Regions from separate parts of the Homo sapiens genome. Here region 2 is linked to region 1. The links come from fine-mapping of genetic effects on gene expression. A gene starts in region 1. The other region holds a variant in brackets. All regions are shown on one strand. Distances are from middle to middle.

Region 1 (10,950 bases):
AGTGCTGCTAACCACTGAGACTGTTGTTCGTACCGCGGAAGGGGGTTGGACACATCACACCCGAGTCAAGTAAGCGCCGTTATCATCAGAATCATGGGCCATTGTTCCTGGATCAAGCCCTACCAAACTAAAGCTAAGAAAAGTGTAGTCTATCTATCTTTTCCTTTCCTTTCTGAATCCAGTGCCTATAGCCATTACTATTCCTACCACTAGCAACTCTAACCCCACTTTTGAGCATTTTTATGGTTTAGGAGTAGAGGTCACTGGAAAGGATCCTATAGGTTTCTTTAAGATGTGGTTTGTTCTCCCTCCTCCACCTCCTACAACTGCCCCTTTCCCAAACCTATGAAATCAAACTATGCCTCGCCTCATGCCAAATGACAAAAGCAAGGTCTCAGTAGTAGAAATAGAAGACCTAAGGCAAACCATAGCCATTGAAACAGAGTAAAAAGATGTAAATCCCTGGTTAAAATGGATTAAATATTCCGTTCGCACTTGAAACAAAAGCGACTGTTACTGTTGTGTGCACAGTAGGCCAGAGGCCCAGGTTGTTCCCTTTCCACTGGGATGGTCCTCAAATCAACTGGACATGGAGTGCATGGTAGCTCTTTTTCAAGATTCTACCGCCTGGAATAACAAATTGTGCCAAGCTCTTTCTCTGCTATTTCCTGAAGTTCAACACGCTGTGGGTCAGCCCCCAAGGGCCATCCAGCCTCCATCTTCCAAAGCCAATTTTACCTCATGTCTCCAATGACAAGGGGAAAAATTTGGCATTCCCTGGAGACTTAACAGGATGCAGGGAAGTCAGGCACTTCCAAGAGCTGACCCAACAGTCTGCCCTTATTCATCCCTGACTGGTTGTATGGTGGTATTAGGGAGGACCTTTACTGGACACTCTGCCAAATAATTAGAGCAGTACTTATGGTCTAATTCAATTGGTTATCTCTTTTACTCTGGCATTTCATCAACTGGAGGAAGGAAAAATAAGACATCGTAAAGTGAAAGAGGCCCCTTATGGGTCTTTCAACTCTCATGTCTATTTAGACGCAATTGGAGTCCCACTGGGAATACCAGATCAATTTAAAGCCCAAAATCAAATAGCTGCAGGATTTCAGCCAGTATTTTGGTAAGTTACAATTAATAAAAATGTAGGTTTGATAAACTACATTTATTGCAACCAACAGCGATTTATTAACTACCCTAGAGATGCTGTTAAAAGAATAGCTGAGCAATTAGGGGCTACTAGCCAGATGGCTTGGGAAAATAGGATAGCCTGAGACATGATATTAGCAGAAAGAGGAGGAGTTTGCATCATGATTAAAACTCAGTGTTGTACCTTCATCCCAAACAATACCGCCCCTAATGGAAGTATAACAAAGGCATTGCAAGGTCTGACTGCTCTGTCCAGTGAGTTAGCCAGCAACTAAGGGTAAATGGGCCCTTTACAGGATGCCTAGAAAAGTGGTTTGGTAAATGGAAAGGAATAATAGCCTCAATTCTTAACTTCCCTTGCAGCCGTAATGGGTGTACTTACTCTTGTTGGGTGCTGTATCATACCATACATCTGTGGGTTGGTGCAGAGGCTCATAGAAATGGCACTTACTAAATCCTCCCTTAACTATCCTCCACCTTATCCAGAGAAGCTTATTCTTTTGGAAAATCAAGCAGAACAACTAAGCCAAGACATGTTAAAGAAGTTTGAAGAGAAAGAGCTGTAAGGAAATGCAAGAGGAGGAGTTGTTAGATATGAGTTCTAAATTTCTTTTAAAAGAATCAGTATGTCAGTGTATTCAATTCTTTGCCTTCTACTTTGAAACTTAACTTCCTCGTAAAGCAACCTTTTCCGATTACCTGCTCCACCCTGTCTCATTCTGATTACCTGCTCATTCTCTACCCTGGCTCATTCCGATGTCCTCTCTGTCATAACCATTTTTCCTGCCAAACCACTCACCCTGTCACTCTCTTTAAATTAGCCAACTGGAATTAGTTTAACCTGTGTGGACTAACCCTAGGCAATAGGGGAATGACACAGCAGCAGGGGCCACATGCATCAGGAATAAGGACCCCTTCCCCTCCCTTGTCCGGGTGTGCGCTCACCATTGCTCCATCTGTGAGAGTGCAACCTTCTATAGAAGTAAACTGCGTTGCTGAGAAGAAAAAAAAATTTTATATTCGAGTGCTATTTCTTCTGTGGCACCAAAACTTTATTTATAACAGAAACCAAGCTGTCAGAGCTCTGGAACCATAGCTGTCTGCTAGGTGTCTCTAGCCATAGTTTTGCTTCCCCTTCACAGATGCAGTTTGTCTAAAATTGAAGCCATAACCCCTCCAAAGCCACTCTTTCTCCACTATTTATTTTGATGAATGGCCCATCGTAATCTAGATTTTCAAATCAAAATATAGGATTATTTCAGTTGCTCTTTTCTCATATCTACATCTAATTAATCAAAAAGACTAGTTCTGAAGCAGGAAATTTTCCTGACCCCTTCATGGGTGGGGGCAGGAACTGGAGCACATAGGATCTAGAACTAGCTGGCCGCTTTGGGTCTGGCAGGGGTGGACTCCATTCACTGGGTCCCACTGCGTTCCACAGGAACGGGGAGCACAGGTGAGTGGGTGCAGGAGCTGGGGCCAGTGCATGCAGGAGCAAAACTCTATGTGGCCCTTGGCAGTGTCTAGAGGGGTACCTAAGGCCCCTGAAGCCCCAGAGGGTGTGTGTTACAGTGCTCTTTTAACTTTGCCATCCACTGATGGCTTAAATGTTAAACAGCTCAGTAGGCCCTCTGTTTTTTGGTGTGAGGCACTTGCTCTCTGCCAGTGAGGGCAGAGGGTCAGTGTGACAGCCTTTAGTGTCACACCTGTGGCACCTGAGCTCTTGTTTGGCATCCAGGAAAAATCAGGTCACAGGAACAAATTGAATAATGGTGAATGCAGAGGATTTTATTGCCGATGAGAGTGGCTGTCAATGGGAAGGGGAGCTGAAAAGGGGATGGAGTGAGAAGGTGATCTTCCCCAGGAGCAACGCCATTAAGCCATACCTCTGAAGTCGAGCTGTTTCTTCTCTCCTCTCCTCTCTGCCATTGGAGCCTGGGGTTTTTATGGGCACAGGATGGGGGGCAGGGGGACCATAGGTGGTTTTGGAAAAGGCAACATTCAAGAGGGAAAACAGGGATGCATGTTCTCACTTTGGGCTGTGTTTTCAGGCTTGAGGTTGGAGCCCTCACTGGGGACCTGCCCTCTTCTGCCCAGAATTTCCCTGCCTTCTATCCCTGTCAGTTCCATTTGCAAATACAGTTTATCTCAACATTTCTTCTTCAACATTTCCTCTGCCTTACTTCTGGTTTCCATAATTTCCCCCAAATCTTTTCTATGTTCTCCTTGCCCACCTCTAATTATTGGGGGAACCTGCCCCCAATATTTCAACATAGGTTCTTTCTATTTTCCATAAGTGTCAGTCAGCTGAGAAATAGAGAAAGAGTACAAAGGGAGGAATTTTACAGCTGGGCTGCCGGGGGTGACATCACATATCAGTAGGACCGTGATGCCCACCTGAGCCTCAAACCAGCAAGTTTTTTATTAAGGGTTGCAAAAGGGAAGGGGGTGTAAGAACAGAGAGTAGGTACAAACATCACATGCTTCAAAGGGCAAAAAGCAGAACAAAGATCATATGCTTCTGAGGGAACAGGACAAAGGGCAAAAGCAGAACTACTAATAAGGGTCCAACAAAGATCACAAGACAAAGGGCAAAAGCAGAGCTACTGATAAGGGTCTATGTTCAGCAGTGCATGTATTATCTTGATAAACATCTTAAACAACAGAAACAGGGTTCGAGAGCAGACAACTGGTCTGACCACAAATTTACCAGGGCCGGGTTTTTCCCCACCGTAGTAAGCCTGAGGGTACTGCAGGAGACCAGGGCATATCTCAGTCCTTATCTCAACCACATAAGACAGAGCAGCCGTTTATAGACCTCCCCCCAGGAATGCATTCCTTTACCAGGGTATTAATATTAATATTCCTTGCTAGGAAAAGAATTTAGTGATATCTTCCCTACTTGCACGTCCGTTTATAGGCTCTCTGCAAGAAGAAAAATATGGCTGTTTTTGCCCAACCCCGCAGGCAGTCAGCCCATATGGTTGACTTCCCTTGTTCCCTAAAAATTGCTGTTATTCTGTTCTTTTTCAAGGTGCACTGATTTCATATTGTTCAAACACACATGTTTTACAATCAATTTGTACAGTTAACACAATTATCACAGTGGTCCTGAGGTGACGTACACCTTCAGCTTACGAAGATAACAGGATTAAGAGATTAAAGTAAAGACAGGCATAAGAAATTATAAAAGTATTATTTGGGAACTGATAAATGTCCGTGAAATCTTCACAATTTATGTTCCTCTGCTGCGGCTCTAGCAGGTCCCTCTGTTTGGGGTCCATGACTTCCCGCAACATCCAATCAATCCTCCATAATGGGCAAAGTGATCTTTCCATAGTGTAAATGTGTTCCCACCACTCTCTGGAGTAATCCTACTTAAAACCGTTTTCAGCACAAAATTCAAACATCTAAACATGATCTTGCTGGCTTTGCTTTTGTGGCTTTACCCTCTTTCTCCCCAAACCTAGCTAGTGTTTGTGCTGCCTGTAATGCCCTTCTTTCTTTGCAGGGGTCGCCACTTTAGGTCCTGGTCCTCCTTCAGAAAGTTTTTCCTCTTTCTCCCCAGCGGGGATAGGGTCTGTTTATTTTGACACCATTAGCTCACTTACACACATTGGTCACAAGTCTAGGCTGCACCGTTATTGAAAGTTTACCATCTGACTCTGAGTAGCTTGAGGATCCTATCAAAACTCAGGAGATGCTCAGTAAATGTTGATTGAACTATGACTGTTCTCAACATACAAACGCAAGATCATTTAGGAACACTTGTCAAAATGTTTTTGCCCCTTGAGATTCTATTTTGGGAGGTAAGCAGTGGGGGTCCAGGACTCTGCATTTTGACAGTCCCCTGATGTTTGCATGTAGAAGTGCAGGGATTATTACACTGACAAATCTTTACCATCCCTAAGGGGGACTTTCCTTCCCAGGGGCTATCTCTGGAAGCCCCTCAAGGATAGGGGCCGCATGCTGTTTCTCTAGGTCAGCAACTAAACCCAGAAAACGTTTATTGAGTGAATGATGAAACGACAGGTGAATAGATGAACGCAAGGTGTCGAGTTAACTATTCTTCTACACAAGTCCTAGCAGCTCCCATTGCTTCCAGCCGCAGAAATGGCCCCTGGAAGGCAAGTCTTCCAGCGAGTGGAGTCACTCTTAACTACATTTCCCAGGATTCCAAGGGAGCCGCGCGCTCTGCGCTCATCTTCCTACCAGAAATCGGCAAGTCACTGACCCTCGTCCCGCCCCCGCCATTCCCCGCCTCCTCCTGTCCCGCAGTCGGCGTCCAGCGGCTCTGCTTGTTCGTGTGTGTGTCGTTGCAGGCCTTATTCATGGGCTCACCGCTGAGGTTCGACGGGCGGGTGGTACTGGTCACCGGCGCGGGGGCAGGTGAGCATGCGAAGGTTGGAGGCCGCGCCCCTTGCTGAGGCGCAGCTGGCTGCTCTTTTCGGGCCGGCATACGCGCGCAGCCGCAGCTGAGGTCACCCCGCTGAGGTGGTGGGGAGGGGAATGGTTATTCTTGAGGCACCGCATCTCTTGAGGAGGAAAGAGCCGGAAACACCTGGTCTCTCAAGCAGGTACAGCCCGCTTCTCCCCAGCACCCCGGTGTGGGCTTCCCAAGGTCCTGCCTGAGAGGAGAGGCCAGGCTGGGCTGCTGATTGCAAAACTGGGTGAAAGTTCTCCCTGACCCTTATCTGTGGGCATCGATTGTTACTCTTCCTGCAATTAACTCTCTTAGATCTTTGCCTAGTCTTTTAAAGGACTGAAAAGCCGCGAGGGGCGGGGGCTGGAATTCGCCCCCTGAAGCGCAGAGATGTCAGCTCCTGAAAAGTCATTCGGTCGTTCAGTGTTTGTTTCCCTCTGTCGTAAGATTTTAAGTTCGTGAGAGGACCTTCTTTAAAGAGGGCGTCTGATAAGAGCCCTTCCCCGTTGGAGTTTGTATGCTTAGCAAGTCACAATCTGTTCTCGAAATCCACTGGAGTCTTGGCAGAGGTTGTAAGCTCAAATGCGCACAGGGGTCAGGCGTATGATGGAGAAAGAAAATGGGAGTAGGATGGGCACATCTGAGGAACTGGAGAGCAGAGAATTCCGAAGTGGACCGGCCAGTGGGAAAGTTGCCTGTATTTCAGGAGCGGCAAAATGGAAAATTGTTATGTGAAATAGCCCCATTTTTTAAAGTACAAAAAATTAAAACAAACCATTCATACCAACATAGATGCTGTGCAGTGAGATTTTACATTAGTTTCTCACCAGTGGGTGACCTCTGTAACCTCCAAGTGCAGGGATCTTGACATTATGCACCTTTGATTCTCCACTGGTAGTACCTTATACCTGGAAAGGCCCTAATGCATGAATTATTTGAGTTATATATTAAACGTTACAAACTGGAATTCTGTCAATTAATTCCTATGTACTTTCATATCTGTATTGATAAAGTGGCTTCTTATGCTGCCTTTCAGAAAATGCTTTCAGTGTTGATGAATAGCCAAGTATTTTATACCCATAGCTGTCTGGTTATCTCTGCATGGGCATGTATTTGGGTGTAGTCATACCTTCTAAATGTTTTTAGGAAAACATTTTGTTTACACTTTGCTTTTATTGTAAATAATGTATTTTACAACGCTTGGTGTTTTAAATCTTTTTTGACAGCTCTTGGATAATTTTCATGCAGGAGGTCCAGGGATTACATTCTAAGACGTTTTTGCCATCGCTAAGGAGACTTTCCTTTTCAGGGGCTATATCTGAAAATCATTCAAGGATAGGGACTGCTTCTTTTGACACCATTAGCATACTTACACATGGTATGCAGTACATTTTACACCAGTACTCAGTACACTTACACAAGCACATACATCTGTATTTAAAACCAGTTCATGATATAGTGTGTAGTACAGGCAATGCATCCTGAAATTTATTTTCTATTCTGTTTTATTTATAAATTGTAATTGTAACCCACAAAATTGATTTTGTGAAACAATGAGTTGTGACTAGACAGTTATGAACTTAGCACCTGCTGTTCATAAACTGGTTAAATTCTCTCTTACCCATTCAGAGTTGATTAAATTTTTTTTTTTTTTCAGAGCTAAAGGTTTTACTCTGTACCCAGGCTGGAGTGCAGTGACCCGATCATGGCTCACTGTAACCTTGAACTCCTGGGCTCAAGTGATCCTTTTGCATCAGCTTCCAGACTAGCTAGGACTGTAGGCATGTGCCACCACGCCCAGCTAATTTTTAAATGTTTTCAAGAGATGGAGTCTCGCTTTGTTGCCCAGGCTGGTCTCAAACTCCTGGCCTCAAGTGATCCTTCTGCTTGGATTAAATTCTAAAATAAGTTATTTGGTGAAATTTCCTAGTTTTGGAAAACTGTATATTTTTGGTTCTTTTTGTTTTTGTTTGAGAGGGAGTTTTGCTCTGTTGCCGAGGCTGGAGTGCAGTGACATGATCTTGGCTGACTGCAACCTCTGCCTTCCGGGTTCAAACAATTCTCCTACCTCAGCCTCCCAAGTAGCTGGGGGTACAGGTGCACACCACCAAGCCCAGCTGATTTTTGTGGTTTGAATAGAGACGGGGTTTCACCCTGTTGGCCAGGCTGGTCTTGAACTCCAGACCTCAAATGATCCGCCCACCTCTGTCTCATAAAGTGTTGGGATTACAGATGTGTGTCACTACTCCTGGCCTTGGGTTGTTTTTGGAAGGGGCTAATAATTTATGTATCTCAGTTTGTTATTTGTATACTTATTGATTAATTTATACTAAATATAAATTGTTAATTAAATTTATTCATTTGTCAATGAAATTTATCAATTAACTTAAAATGTAAAAAATATACACATATTAAAAAATGTAAACAATACAGAAAAACAATCCAGAAGTAAGCCTTCCACCCCTTATTGCTAGCCACATAGTTCTGTCCTCCAGAGGTAACCACTAATTGCCAGTTTCTAATGTGTTTTTCCCGAGATACTCTATGCCTATAAAACTTCTCTCTTGGCTGGGGATGGTGGTGGCTCACGCCTGTAATCCCAGCACTTTGGGAGGCCGAGGTGGGCTGATCACGAGGTCAAGAGATCGAGACCATCCTGGCCAACATGGTGAAACCCCATCTCTACTAAAAATACAAAAATTAGCTGGGCGTGGTGGCGGGCGCCTGTAGTCCCAGCTACTCGCGAGGCTGAGGCAGGACAATCACCTGAACCTGGGAGGTGGAGGTTGCAGTGAGCCGAGATCATGCCACTGCACTCCAGCCTGGGCGACAGAGTGAGACTGGATCTCAAAAAAAAAGAAAAAAAGCAAAACTTTCTCTCTCTCTCTCTCTCTCTCTCTCTATATATATATATATAATTTCTTTTTGGATATATAAATTTACACCTTGTAGCTTTGAGTCAGAATTAAATATTTTCTGTATTTGATGACTGTGTAGTCAGGGTTCACTGTGGGATACAGAAACCACTAGATATTTTAAGCAGCAAAGGATTCAATACAGGCAATTAGGTTTTAGGCAGGTCTTCTTAGAATAACTCCTGAAACAATAGGAAATTGATCCATTAGAGGAGGCAATACCTCTGAGGCTGTCATTGGAGCTGTGCCACAGCCCAAGTAGCACTGGCACTAGGGACCTGAAGTATGGAAGCTGCCATCCAGGGATTAGGGAGCTGAATGAAGAAGTCGCTGCTATAGTCAGTTTCTGAATACCTAGGAACTTTCAAGAAAACTAGCTTCTTAACAACAACAGCCAGAACTCCCAGTAAGGTGGTCTCTGTCTCACTTACACCTTCTAAGTTTTATGCAGATGCATCAGATGGTGGAACCCAATTCACAGCATCCTAGCAGCTAAGTAGAATGGTAGGAAGTGGTAGTAGAATAGGTGGAAAAATACAGTTTTAAGCTTTCCAGCCTCTGCAAGCAGAAGAGAGTGGATAGGTTGAGAATGTCAGTGATAGGATAGGTTGAGAGTATCATTAAAATGTAATTAATTGTTCACCAATTTCTTTAAATGGGGATTGAGTTGAGCGGACCAAAAAAATTATGCTGACATTTCTTCAACTTTCTGATTATTTTGTTTTTGATTAGGATTGGGCCGAGCCTATGCCCTGGCTTTTGCAGAAAGAGGAGCGTTAGTTGTTGGTAAGTTGGTGTGTTTTTCTTTTTAATCTGTAGCTGATAACTGAAATACAATCTTTACAAGCTATCTTTGTCTTTCTATCAAATAATTTGTCAAGGTTGAATTTTATTATTAATTTTTACTTTTGCCAGAAGGTTTTTACCCCGACTAAGGCTGTCTGTCTAAATTACTTTTAAAAGGGAACCAGTTTCACAGAATTCCCAGCTTAACAGAATTGATAACGAAGGGCTAGGGGGTAGGCATGCTGGCTTGTGGCTATAACTCCAGTGACTCAGGAGGCTGAGGTGGGAGGATCGCTTGAGACCAGGAGTTCGAGCCTGCAGAGAACTATGATTATACCACTGCACTCCAATCTGGGTGATGGCGCAAAAAAAACCCTGTTTCTCACAGAAAAGGGTGGGGACAAGCATTTATTGTATAAAAGGAAATTCTTGACTTCAGTAAATTGTAGGCTGTAATTTTTTGAGACAGGAGGTTTGTCTACTGGTGCGAGATCAAAAGAGAGCCCCTGTAAGTGTATTGATAAAAGTAAGAAATAACTGAATTTTGAGAACTGGAAGTTTGGAGTCAAGGAATCTAAAGTATGGGTTTCTTGACTCTTTCATCAAAACTTTTCAGCTGGAAGTGTTTTAAAAAAATTTAATTGAGGGGGCAGTTACATGAGTTTTTGTTTGTGGAGGGGTCAGATGGAAGATACTGTATTGAAGAATCCTAAAGGTGGGAGGTTTTAGTAATCTGCATGGTTTGGACTGATCTAATGTGCTTGACAGTTGGTGTGGACACAGAAACGAATTTGTCCACAACTGAGCCTTTCTGGGGAATAACTAAATGGGTGCTAAGTGCAGGGGGATATGTAGGACCCAGTACTTATTAGCATATTTCCTGGGATAAAACTGTGGGCCCACAATGATCTTCTAATTTCAGCTTTCTGACATCTTAACGAGGCAATACAGAGAGACGAATTTTCATCAGTTTGTTCAGGGAGACACATATAACAAAAGAGTAAGCAAGCAACCAGGTTTTCTAAACAAGCCCTAAGCAGAGCACTTGATACACTTTTCTCCTTCATTGTGGATGTGTAGCTTATCTTTATGGAAGGAACACTGACGCTTTGGATGTTCCTTGTTTAAGATCATAGGCACTGTCTGCTAATCCAATCTGCTTCTTCTGGCAGGGATGAATTTTGACATTGTATTATTTGGACAGCGAGTATATATTTCAGGCCCACTTTGTCAGATTTTCCCAAGAATAGCTCATGTTGAGGCCTAAAGACACATGCTGTTACTATTTTTAATTTTCCTTCCTTTTTATGTTGCTATTTAGTTCTTAATATTTTTACCTTATATGTTTTTATTTATTTACATCTTTTCTGCTCAATTCCATAACGGCAAGGATCTTGTTTTATCTTTTGTATCTACTAAAGGACCTAGAATATTTCTTTGTGCAAAGAAGGTACTTTGTTCATTGGTTCTTTTATTGTTGATATACTTTTCTGGGGGAAGGGTGTGTTTGAGATTGGTTGAATACATTTCTTTTTTTTGTTCTTGACTAAGATATAAACTTAGTTTATAAACCTGTTTTGTAAAAAATTTTATAACAGTGTGTTCCTGTGCATCAATTTTCCTTTATTTCCCTGTTCCCTCTCAATTTCTTAAATTCAGATTAGGAGTATTTGA
Region 2 (10,950 bases), 31 kb before region 1:
TCTCACCTTGAGTTGCCAGTTGCAGGCTGTGAGTGGCCTTATGGAGTGGTCCAGGTGGCAAGGAACTGATGTCTCCAGCCAACAGCCAGAAAAGACCCGGGGTCTGCCTATTGCCACAGAAGTGAACTCAGAGTGGGTCCTCCCCCAGATGAGTCTTGAAATGATTGCAGTTGAAGTGGACACCTTGATTGCCTTGTGAGACACATTTTGAGAGACTGCAAGCTTTAGGTATCTGGCTAAGCTATGCCCAAATTTCCAACCCACATAAACAGAGATAATAAAGGAGTGTTTGTGATGTAAGTGTCTAGGTTTTGGAGTGATTTGTTAAACAGCATAATAACTAATATACCTGTGAAGCCACCTCTCATATCCAAATGTTGAAGAGATTCTTTAAAACTGAGATTTAGATGAGAAAGACTAAACCGATAGTTTATACTATGAACTCTATGCATAATTAAGCATAAATATATCCAATCATCTATGAATATAAGTTATAATCACTGTGGTGTTCTAGAGTAAACTCTCCCTCCTTATGTAGGAAATTAACCTTTATTGAGCAGTTAGTATTTACTAGGCACTTAAATTATATCTTTCAGAAGGGGATTAGAGTAGGTCAATAATTTATACACGTTTATATAGATAGGGAAGGTGTTGAAATTCAAACTGAGGTGTGACTTTTAAGTAAAAGTAACTTGTATCACTCTTTCCAGAAATTTTCTTGCATTTTCTGATTCTATATTCTTTGCTCATCTATGTTAAATACTTAGGCCCCTCCCACGGTCTACAGTGGATGGGCTACTGCTTTGAATCTGAGTTGCTAATGCTAACTCCAAAGAGTTGTCATGCTGTCTATTTACAATTGTAAAAAGCTAGTTGCAGTGCAAATGTATTGTCTGTGCAAAACAGTAGTCCACTTTTTTTTTGAGGAATTTCTCCACGTTTTTGTAGGAGCTGACAGTCTTAGATCTTGCCCTAAAGAATTAGCTTATGACGGCCAGATGGGGTGGCTCACGCCTGTATTCCCAGAACTTTGGGAGGCTGAGGCGGGTGGATCATGAGGTCAGGAGATCAAGACCATCCTGGCTAACACAGTGAAACCCTGTCTCTACTAAAAATACAAAAAATTAGCCAGGTGTGGTGGTGGGTGCCTGTAGTTCCAGCTACTCGGGAGGCTGAGGCAGGAGAATGATGTGAACCTGAGAAGCGGAGCTTGCAGTGAGCTGAGATTGCACCACTGCACTCCAGCCTGGGCGACAGAGTGAGATTCCGTCTCAAAAAAAAAAAAAAAAAAAAAAAAGAATTAGCTTATGACTCAGCATTGGCTTGCCAAGACACTCCTTGGCCATAGTGATTGTATTCCAGCGAGACACTAAACAGACAATTTCTCTAGAATTTAAAAAAGTAAACCTGCTAAGGTCCTCATGATCCTCGGGAAGTTGTAGATAGTTTCCTGGGGTCTGGTCTTCTATAGTATAGAATGGATCACAGGACAATAGCAAACCTTCAAATACGTATAAAGCAAAAAAATGGAAAGAATAACAAGAGATTTAGAAAAACCCTGAATCATAGTGGGGTATTTTAAACATATTTCTGTCAGTAACTGATAGTGCAAGCAGATAAAATATCCATAAAGATACAGAAGACTTGAACAATATGATCTACAAACTTGACCTAATGACCACATATGGAACCCTGAGCCCCAAACTGCAAATACCCATTCTTTTCAAGTATACATGGAATCCCTGTTAAAATTGACAGTATGGTGGATCATAAAGCCGGCTTCCCTATATTTAAAAGGCTTGAAATCAGGGAATGTTTTTTGATAATAATGCATTAAGCTCAAAATCATTGACAAAAAGATGACTAGGAAATTTCCTTGTTTGATTTTAAGAAGATAACTTGTAAATAACTCATGCATCAAGAAAGAAATGTTAGAAGTTAGAAAACATTTTAAACTGGAAAACTGCAAAGTTTTCTAGGAAAGCATGATAGAAGGAAAAGAGAAGCAAGGCTGTAGATTGTAATGGTGGGTCATAGAGTCTAAGCAAGACAAGAAAGTAAGACAGAAAAGGGTCTGGGTATTAGGAGCGCCAAGGATGCACTGGAGGTCATGGTGCTGGAGACTTCTGCAGTGGGAGCACTTGTGCTAGAAAGGCAGGACATTCGGACATGAGATTTCAGAAGTGGTAAGGTTCTTGGTAATGAACACATTCAGGGTTGTGAGTATGGGCGAGAGTGCTAGCAGTTGTTAAATTTAAAAAGTCACTGGAAATGAGAGCATTAACTAGGATACAAAGTATTGGATGGGTCCAATTCAGTGGGTCCAATGCACATTGATTCTGAAGTCCCCAAGCAGAATAAAAGCAGTTGAGGTGGAGCGCAAGACAGCAGGAAATAAACTAAGTGATAAAAGAGGGGTTGTGAACAGGAAGTTGGAAGACTGAACGTAACAAAATGTGAAAGTGGGTGGTAAATCCCAAGTGGCTTAAGTGTCAAAGGAATAGGTGAATGAGGTAAGCCAGTTTTACTCCTAATTAACATTTCACTGGGTACATTCTGTAAAGAGAGACAAATGCTGGCAGTAGCTCAACTTTACACTGAAAGTGGTTTTCATAGTTTATACAACGCACAGATCATCCACGGCTTTCCAGTTAGAGAAACCAGCTAAGTTCTTATTCCTAAATTGCATTTTCTCAGCCTCAGCATGCAGCTTTATTTAGCATGCTTCTCCTCAGTACTCCCAAATTCTCTGCTTCCTAAGCTGATTAGCTTATTATGCAATACACATGGCTGCTTGTGGTTTCTCTAAGGGAGATACACATCATACAACTCAGGCTACACAAGCTGCCCAATATTGTGTTTTCTTTAGCATGGTGCATCTGCTTGTAATTGAGTAGGTTTTACGCTATGCAATACATGGTATTTTAAGGAGCTTAAATTGTTTTTTTAAAATTATTCATTTGTATAATTACACAAGTACATTTTCATGTGAACAAAAAAAGATAAAGTGAAAGTCTCTTTCATCACTGTCATGATCCCGAACATATCTCCAGAACTAACCACCGTTATCAGTTGGTATGCCCCTCCCTGGGCTTTTCTCTAGGCACATACATTCTTATAAGTATATGTAATGAAATTTGTGGTTTTACATATCAGATTATTTTACTCCCTGGCTTTTCAAGGGATTTCTATTATAATTAGAAGAAAATCCATACTTGTAACTATTGCCTACAAGGCTCCACACAATCTGGTCCTTGCCCACTTCTTTGACCTCCTCATGTACCAGGAAGTCAAGGTGTTTTCCCCACAGAGCTTTTGCATGTGCTTTTCATTCTGCCCAGAAGGGTCTGTCCTAATGCTTGCTTGACTGGTTCCTTGTTGACATTCAGGTCTCAGCTCAAAATTCACCTCCCTGTAAGCCTTTCCAGGATACCTTCTGTAGATTTGTACCTCCCCTCCCTGTCTCTGCTTCCAGTCTCTTTTGAATAGAATTATCCAGTTTTAGGCAAAAATCACTGGGGTTTGAATTCTCACTTCACTCTATGCTAGCAGTTATTTAACCTTTTTGTGGAAGGGTTTCTCATCTGAAAATGAGGATAATTATAAAATCTACTTTTTAGGTCGTTATGAAATCAGATAAGTTAATATTTGTAAAATACTAAGAAAGTGCCTAGAAAATAATGACATCTGTTAAATTAATAAATATCTTCCCTTAGCACTTACAGTTATCTGGAATTATTTATTTGTAGTTTATCAACTCTTTTCTCTCTAGAATATAAGATCTATAAATGCAGGGACCTTGTCTATTTTGTTTGCAGCACCAAGAACAGTGCCTGACCCATAGCAGCCCTGATATGGTTTGACTGTGTCCCCACACAAATCTCATCTTGAATTGTAGCTCCCATAATTTCCACATGTCGTGGAAGGGACTTGGTGGGAGATAATTGAATCACAGGAGCAGTTTCCCCCATACTGTTCTCCTGGTAGTGAATAAGTCTCACGAGATCTGATGGTTTTATAAGTGGGATTTCCCATGAACAAACTCTCTCTTGCCTGCCGATTTGTAAGATGTGATTTTGCTTTTCATTCACCTTCTGCCATGATTGTGAGGCCTCTCCAGCCACGTGGAACTGTGAGTCAATTAAACCTCTTTCCTTTATAATTACCCAGTCTGGGGTATGTCTTTATTAGCAGCATGAGAACAGACTAACAGAGTAAATTGGTACCAGTAGAGTGGGGCACTGCTGTAAAGACACACGAAGATGCGGAAGCGGCTTTGGAACTGGGTAACAGGCAGAGGTTGAAACAGTTTGGAGGGCTCAGAGGAAGACAGAAAAATGTAGGAAAGTTTGGAACTTCCTGGAGACTTGTTGAATGGTTTTGACCAAAATGATGATAATGATATAAACAATGAAATCCAGGCTGAGGTGGTCTCAGATGAAGATGAGAAACTTGTTGGGAACTACAGCAAAGGTCACTCTTGTTATGCTTTAGCAAAGAGACTGGTGGCATTTCGCTTCTGCCCTAGAAATCTGTGGAACTTTGAACCTAAGAGAGATGATCTGAAATTGGAACTTATGTTTAAAAGGGAAGCAGAGCATATAAGTTTGGAAAATTTGCAGCCTGACAATGAGATAGAAAAGAAAAACCCATTTTCTGAGAAGAAATTCAAGCTGGCTGCAGAATTTGTGTAAGAAATGAGGAACCAAATGTTAATCACCAAGAGAAAGAGGAAAATGTCTCCAGGGCATGTCAGAGGTCTTCACAGCAGCGTCTCTCACCACAGGCCTGGCAGCCTAGGAGGAAAAACTGGTTTTGTGGACTGGGCCCCGGGTCCCTCTGCTGTAGGCAGTCTAGGGACTTCATACCCTACCACACAGTCGCTCTAGCCATGGCTAAAAGGGGCCAAAGTATAGCTTAGGCCATGGCTTCAGAAGGTGTAAGCCCCAAGCCTTG[G/A]CAGCTTACACATGGTATTGAGCCTGAGGGTGCACAGAAGTCAAGAATTAAGGTTTAGGAATGTCTGCCTAGATTTCAGAAGATGTATGGAAACTCTGAATGTCCAGACAGATGTTTGCTGCAGGGGTGGGGACCTCATGGAGAACCTCTGCTAGAGCAGTACAGAAGAGAAAATGTGGGGTTGAGGCCCCACACAGAGCCCCCACTGGGGCACTGCCTAGTGGAGCTGTGAGAAGAGGCCACCGTCTTCCAGACCTCAGAATGGTAAGTCCACTGACACTTTGCACTGTGTGCCTGAAAAAGCCACAGACACTCAATGCCAGCCCGTGAAAGCAGCCAGGAGTGGGGCTGTACCCTGCAAAGCTGGGGCAGAGCTGCCCAAGACCATAGGAACCCACCTCTTGCATCACCATGACCTGGATGTGAGACATGGAGTCAAAGGAGATCATTTTGGAGCTTTCAGATTTGACTGCCCCTCTGGATTTTGGACTTGCATGGGTTCTGTGGCTCCTTTGTTTTAGCCAATTTCTCCAATTTGGAACAGGTGTATTTTCCCAATTCCAGTACCCCAATTGTATCTGGGAAGTAACTAACTTGCTTTTGATTTTACAGGCTCACAGGCAAAAGGGACTTGCTTGTCTCAGATGAGATTTTGGACTGTGGACTTTTGAGTTAATGCTGAAATGAGTTAAGACTTTGGGGGACTGTTGGGAAGGCATGATTGTTTTTTGTTTTTTTAAGATGGAGTCTCACTCTTTCACCCAGATTAGAGTGCAGTGACACTATCTCAGCTCACTGCAATCTCCTCCTCCCAGGTTCAAGCAATTCTCCTGCCTCAGCCTCCTGAGTAGCTGGGACTACGGTCATGCACCACCATTCCTGGCTAATTTTTGTATTTTTAATAGAGGCAGGGTTTCACCGTCTTGGCCAGGCTGGTCTAAAACTCCTATCCTCAGGCGATCCACCTACCTCAGTCTCCTAAAGAGCAGGGATTACAGGTGTGAGCCACCACACCTGGCTGGTGTGATTGGTTTTGAAATGTAAGGACATGAGATTTGGAAGGGGCCACGGGTGAAATGATATGGTTTGGCTGTGTCCCCACTCAAATCTCATGTTGAACTCTAGCTTCCATAACTCCCATGTGTCATGGGAGGGACCTGGTGGGAGATAATTGAATCATGGGGGTGGTTTTCCCCATACTGTTCTCGTGGTAGTGAATAAGTCTCACAAAATCTGATGGTTTTATAAATGGGAGTTCCCTTGCACAAGCTCTCTCTTGCCTGCCGACATATAAGATGTGGCTTTGCTCCTCATTTGCTTTCCACCATGATTGTAAGGCCTTCCCAGACATGTGGAATCATGAGTCAATTAAACCTCTTTCCTTTGTAATTACCCAGTCTTGGGTATGTCTTTATTAGCAGCATGAGGACAGACTAATACAAGCCCTTAATAAATAAAGGCTGAATGTATGCATGATGAAATCTTACCTCCTGCATAGGGATCTGTGTGCCCAAGAGATAAGTTTAAAATGGAAAACATGGTACTGCTTTTATTAAAAACACCACTTTATAAAAATGTGGAAATGTTTATTTATTTTATTTTATTTTACTTTAAGTTCTGGGATATATGTGCAGGATGTGCAGGTTTGTTACACAAGTATATGTGTGCCATGGTGTTTTGCTGCACCTGTCAACCCGTCCTCTAGGTTTTAAGCCCCACATGCATTAGGTATTTGTCCTAATGCTCTCCCTCCCCTTGCCCCCCATGCCCCAACAGGCTCCAGTGTATGATGTTTCCCTCTCTGTGTCCATGTTTTCTCATTGTTCAGCTTCTACTTATGAGTGAGAATATGCAGTGAAAGCATCACTTTTATACACTAGTCACCACTGGATGCTATCACCGTATCTTGTGCTGTTATACTAGAATGAATGCTAGCTCCTCTTGCACCTCCAAAGTGGGATGAACTCAACTGCAATTCTCTCACTTGTCTTACTTTTCCAAAGAGCACAGGATGCATAAGACCAGTGTAGCAGCAGCTACACACCCACAATACTTAGGAAACATGAGCAGCAGTTATCACAAGCAAAAATGATATTTCCCAGATCCCAGCACAATTTAGATCTTTATTGCAGTTGCCAGCCAAGCGATTTAGGATAATTTGCAGAATGGAGAAAACAGAAAAGCTTGTTTGAGCTTGTCAGGTTGCTTGCCAGGTTACCAGTCATACTGTGCCAGTTGGCCAGGGTCTGTGAGCCTAAACTCAATTGGGAAATATCTTGTGTAATAAGACTAGTTGTGTTTCTATGTACTCTTTTTTTCTTTTTTTTGACAGAGTCTTGCTCTGTCACCCAGGCTGGAATGCAGTGGCATGATCTTGGCTCACTGCAAGCTCCACCTCCTGGGTTCACCCCATTCTTCTACCTTAGCCTCCCGAGTAGCTGGGACCGCAGGTGCCTGCCACCATGCCCAGCTAATTTTTTGGACTTTTTAAGTAGAGACGGGGTTTCACTGTGTTAGCCAGGATGGTCTCGATCTCCTGACCTCGTGATCCCACCTCGGCCTCCCAGTGTGTTGGCATTACAGGTGTGAGCCACCGCGCCCGGCCCACTGTGTTGTACCTTTTGTTACCAACATAACAAGGTTTCAGAGGCCCAGTTAGGGTGCAATGACATTTGCTAGGCATCGATTAGTAACACTGACTTTGCTACTCCAAAGGATGCTTAAAAATTTCCTTCTTGCTAACATTTTCTTGCTACAGCAGGTTCAACCTGGATCATCTGTCCAAGGCTAAGGAATAAGATAAAGGAGAAAAAAATCAGAAAAAAAAATCTATGAGATTTCCACCTAGTAAGCTGAGCTTGAGAAAAAGAGCAAGTCTAAGCTCTGTTCCTGGCTCTAGCAATGGTTCTACAGTTCATGCAAAATCCAGCTGCCGTTGCAGTATAGAGCCCCTTAGAAAGCTTCTTGTGACCCCAGGAAAGGAATTTCTATCTCCATTCAAGACTTGATCCTGACTTATGCAATATGAGTTCCTGGAAAGCCTATGTTGATCCCCAGATGGATCCATTTTCTTATTAAACTCAGATACTGTGGTTTAAAAATGCTAAAGCATACTTTTGGCCTGCATAGCTGCCATCTAAAGACAGCTGCAGCTCAGTGACAGCTCAAATCAGCCATGGTAAATACAAAAGTTTTCATCTCTCCTTGCCATATTTTGGTTTCAGATGGTAGCTCTCATTTGTTGCCACATTGAGCACCAAAATGTTCAGGATTCAGTGTGGGCCTCTCCCTATTTCATACCTCAAGTTCTGTAACTGCAGAGATAGGAAATCTATGCCCATAGGAACCAAATGAAAACAAATAAGATTACAAAAAGGAGTATGCTTGTTCCAGTGCCCAATGCCAGGCAGGTCTAGGCTGGCCACTCCATAGTTTCAAGTGATAGTCTGGACGAAACTGCCATACTGGAAGATAAAGAACAGAAAGGAGATGGCTTAGCCTCTTACTAGCTGAGTAACAGTCTTGATCAGCTTGCTGATAATCCATGCGACAGAATAAAGGAAGCAGAAGGAAGCCCACCATATAGGTGTAGGAAGTGGAACAGAAACGGTGGGGCTTGTTACTGCCTTTAGAGCATGGTATCCTCACGTTAGTAAATGTGGTTCAGCGAATACCTCTGGCTCTCTTCAGTCAGATTGGTCTTTCTTCCTTCCTCTGGGGAGAGATACTAAGTGGGGCCATACAAAAGAGGGGCTAGTTATGTCTGTCCTCACTGAGCCAAGGTTGAATCATGGCCTAAGATGCAGAAAATTTCTCCTTCTCCCCAAGTAAGATAAGTCCATTAAGATGACACTTTTTCTAATTATATTATCTGCAGCATCGACACTATTGACCTCTTCAGTTTCTACTCTCCCTTTGGTGAATGCTATATTTTTCTGGTCACTGTCACAGCTCTCACTCACTTTTCCTCAGTTGTTATTGTTGCCTTTCCTCTAACTGGGTCTTAAATGTGGGGATCTCCTCTCTCTGTCTCTCTCTTTGTGTGTATCTCTCTATTTCTCTGTCTTTCTCTTGCTCTGCATATTCTGGCTGGATAATTTCGTCCACTTCCAAGACACCAACTCTATTTTCATGTTGTTCTCTTTTATATCTTAAACTCTTGATTCCCTCTTAATTTCTAAAACTAATTTTCCAGATGCTTTCTGAGTTGTCTACAAAAAGTCCTCATTTGCATCTTAAAATCCACATGTTAAACGAAATCTATTGACTCCATCTCTGTTCCCCCAATTTTTCTACTCATTGCCCTCCATAAACTCACTCCTCTTCTGATGTTTCCTATTCCAATTAATGGCATGCCTACCTAAATCCTTCAAGCTTAAATCAAATGCCTCCTTCTTCTTGAAGTCTTTCATGCCACCTTGGTTAGAATTATGAGCTCTTTTCTTTGCACTATATGTTGCTTATTTTTCTTTCTTAGTATGGATTTGTCAAGAACTGTGAAGGGTCTGAGATTATAACTTACTGGCAAGCTGACTAGTTAGCCTAACTAGTTCAGTGGATGCTGAGACAAGATACCAGACTCCAGGGTCAGAGACAAATGCTTTTATTGCTTACAGCACAAGTTCTATGAGTTTCATGTTTTCATTGGTTTCCTTGTCCTTGCCATGCTCCATGAGTGAGAGGCAGAGGGGCCTAGGTTGGTGCTGAGCATGCAGCAGTTTTGTGCCACAGCTGAAGAACTCTGAGGCTAGGAAACCTGGATCTTTTATAATGGCTGCAAGCAAACCTTCCCGAACTTTGCTCAAGAGGGAGATGTTATATTTATGACACTGGACAGTAAACAAACCTGTCCTTTGTTCCATAAGCAAATGCTATCTCTATTTTCCATTTCATTGTCTTATTCATTATACAAACATCCTTAAAACGATAGTCTAGGACAAAAGGGTAGTTAGTACCTCTTGTCATAAGATGAGCAGAAACATGAAAGGTCTATGGAGAATTGGCTCTCAATGGGATTCACCCTGCCTTGTGAATCCCATTGTATGTGCTTAGTATATATAATGTTTTTTTTTTTCCTACATGTCCAAATGTAATCTCTGATGTTGGAAATTGTGGCTGATTTAGGAATATTTTTGGTAAAAATAATCAACCTAAGGTTTCTTCATACCCAGAGGAAACCTGTTAATAGAACAATGTAATCTTGCTATTGGTAGGCCGCTGAGACCCTGCAAGGGATGGGGGAAGTGATAGGCACAGAATCTGTTTAAAATCATTACAAGAACTATGGCTTCAGCCACGACCTATGTAACAAGAATAATACTTTGGAAATAACTGTCTTGCTTAGGGTTCCTATTCATAAGCAAGAAAAACTGACTCTGTCTGATTTAAGTACGGAAGGATTATTAAAAGGACACAAGGTGGCCACCAGAATCTCTAGGTGGGGGGAAGAAAGCTAGATTCCGAGGCTCTGCAGTCAGGAGCTATGTCTAAATCATGCCACAGAGTTGGTATGATGAAGATACTGTTATCCTCACAGCTGGATATTAGATGACGCCACTTGCACCCCTGAGACTACCACCACTGAATCCTGCTCACTCCTGCTAGAACTGATGCCATTTCTCCTCCAACTATCCATCACCAGAATGCATTCTGTATAGTTTGTCATTCACCCCATCAATCATTATTTCTCAATTCAGTGCCTTGGGAGGAAGTACATGATTTGCAGAACTTAGGTCATGTGCTATGCCTGGCTGCAGTGGAGGCTGGGAAGAAGAGTACCCAGTATTTTCAGACTCTGAAGTAGGAAACAAGTAAGGTATTATCCAACAATGGGAAGGTAATTTAGAGACTAGGCAGCAAAAAAGAAAAAGAATGCGGTTTCATCGTAATATCTCTTCATGTTCTCCCAGCTTTCCATACACTGTTCGGACTAAGCCAAAAAGCCTAGTGTCTCCCTTAGAAGAGTGAATCTTCAGAATAGAGCTATCCATAAGG

Evidence for each region. PIP is the estimated chance that this variant, and not a neighbour inherited with it, causes the effect.
Region 2: its variant is fine-mapped to the expression of HSD17B4 in blood mononuclear cells (TOPMed, PIP 0.96).

Annotation. Positions count from the first base shown.
Region 1 is chr5:119,447,093-119,458,042 of GRCh38, forward strand. HSD17B4 (hydroxysteroid 17-beta dehydrogenase 4) reads left to right here and starts at 5,405. Exons shown (of 24, transcript NM_000414.4): 1 at 5,405-5,541; 2 at 9,223-9,276. The coding sequence starts at 5,484. RefSeq lists an enhancer at 5,506-5,555.
Region 2 is chr5:119,415,594-119,426,543 of GRCh38, forward strand. No RefSeq gene overlaps it. Among named protein-coding and RNA genes, the nearest start is that of HSD17B4, 31 kb to the right of the region's middle. The variant G/A (reference allele first, on the strand shown) is at 4,957.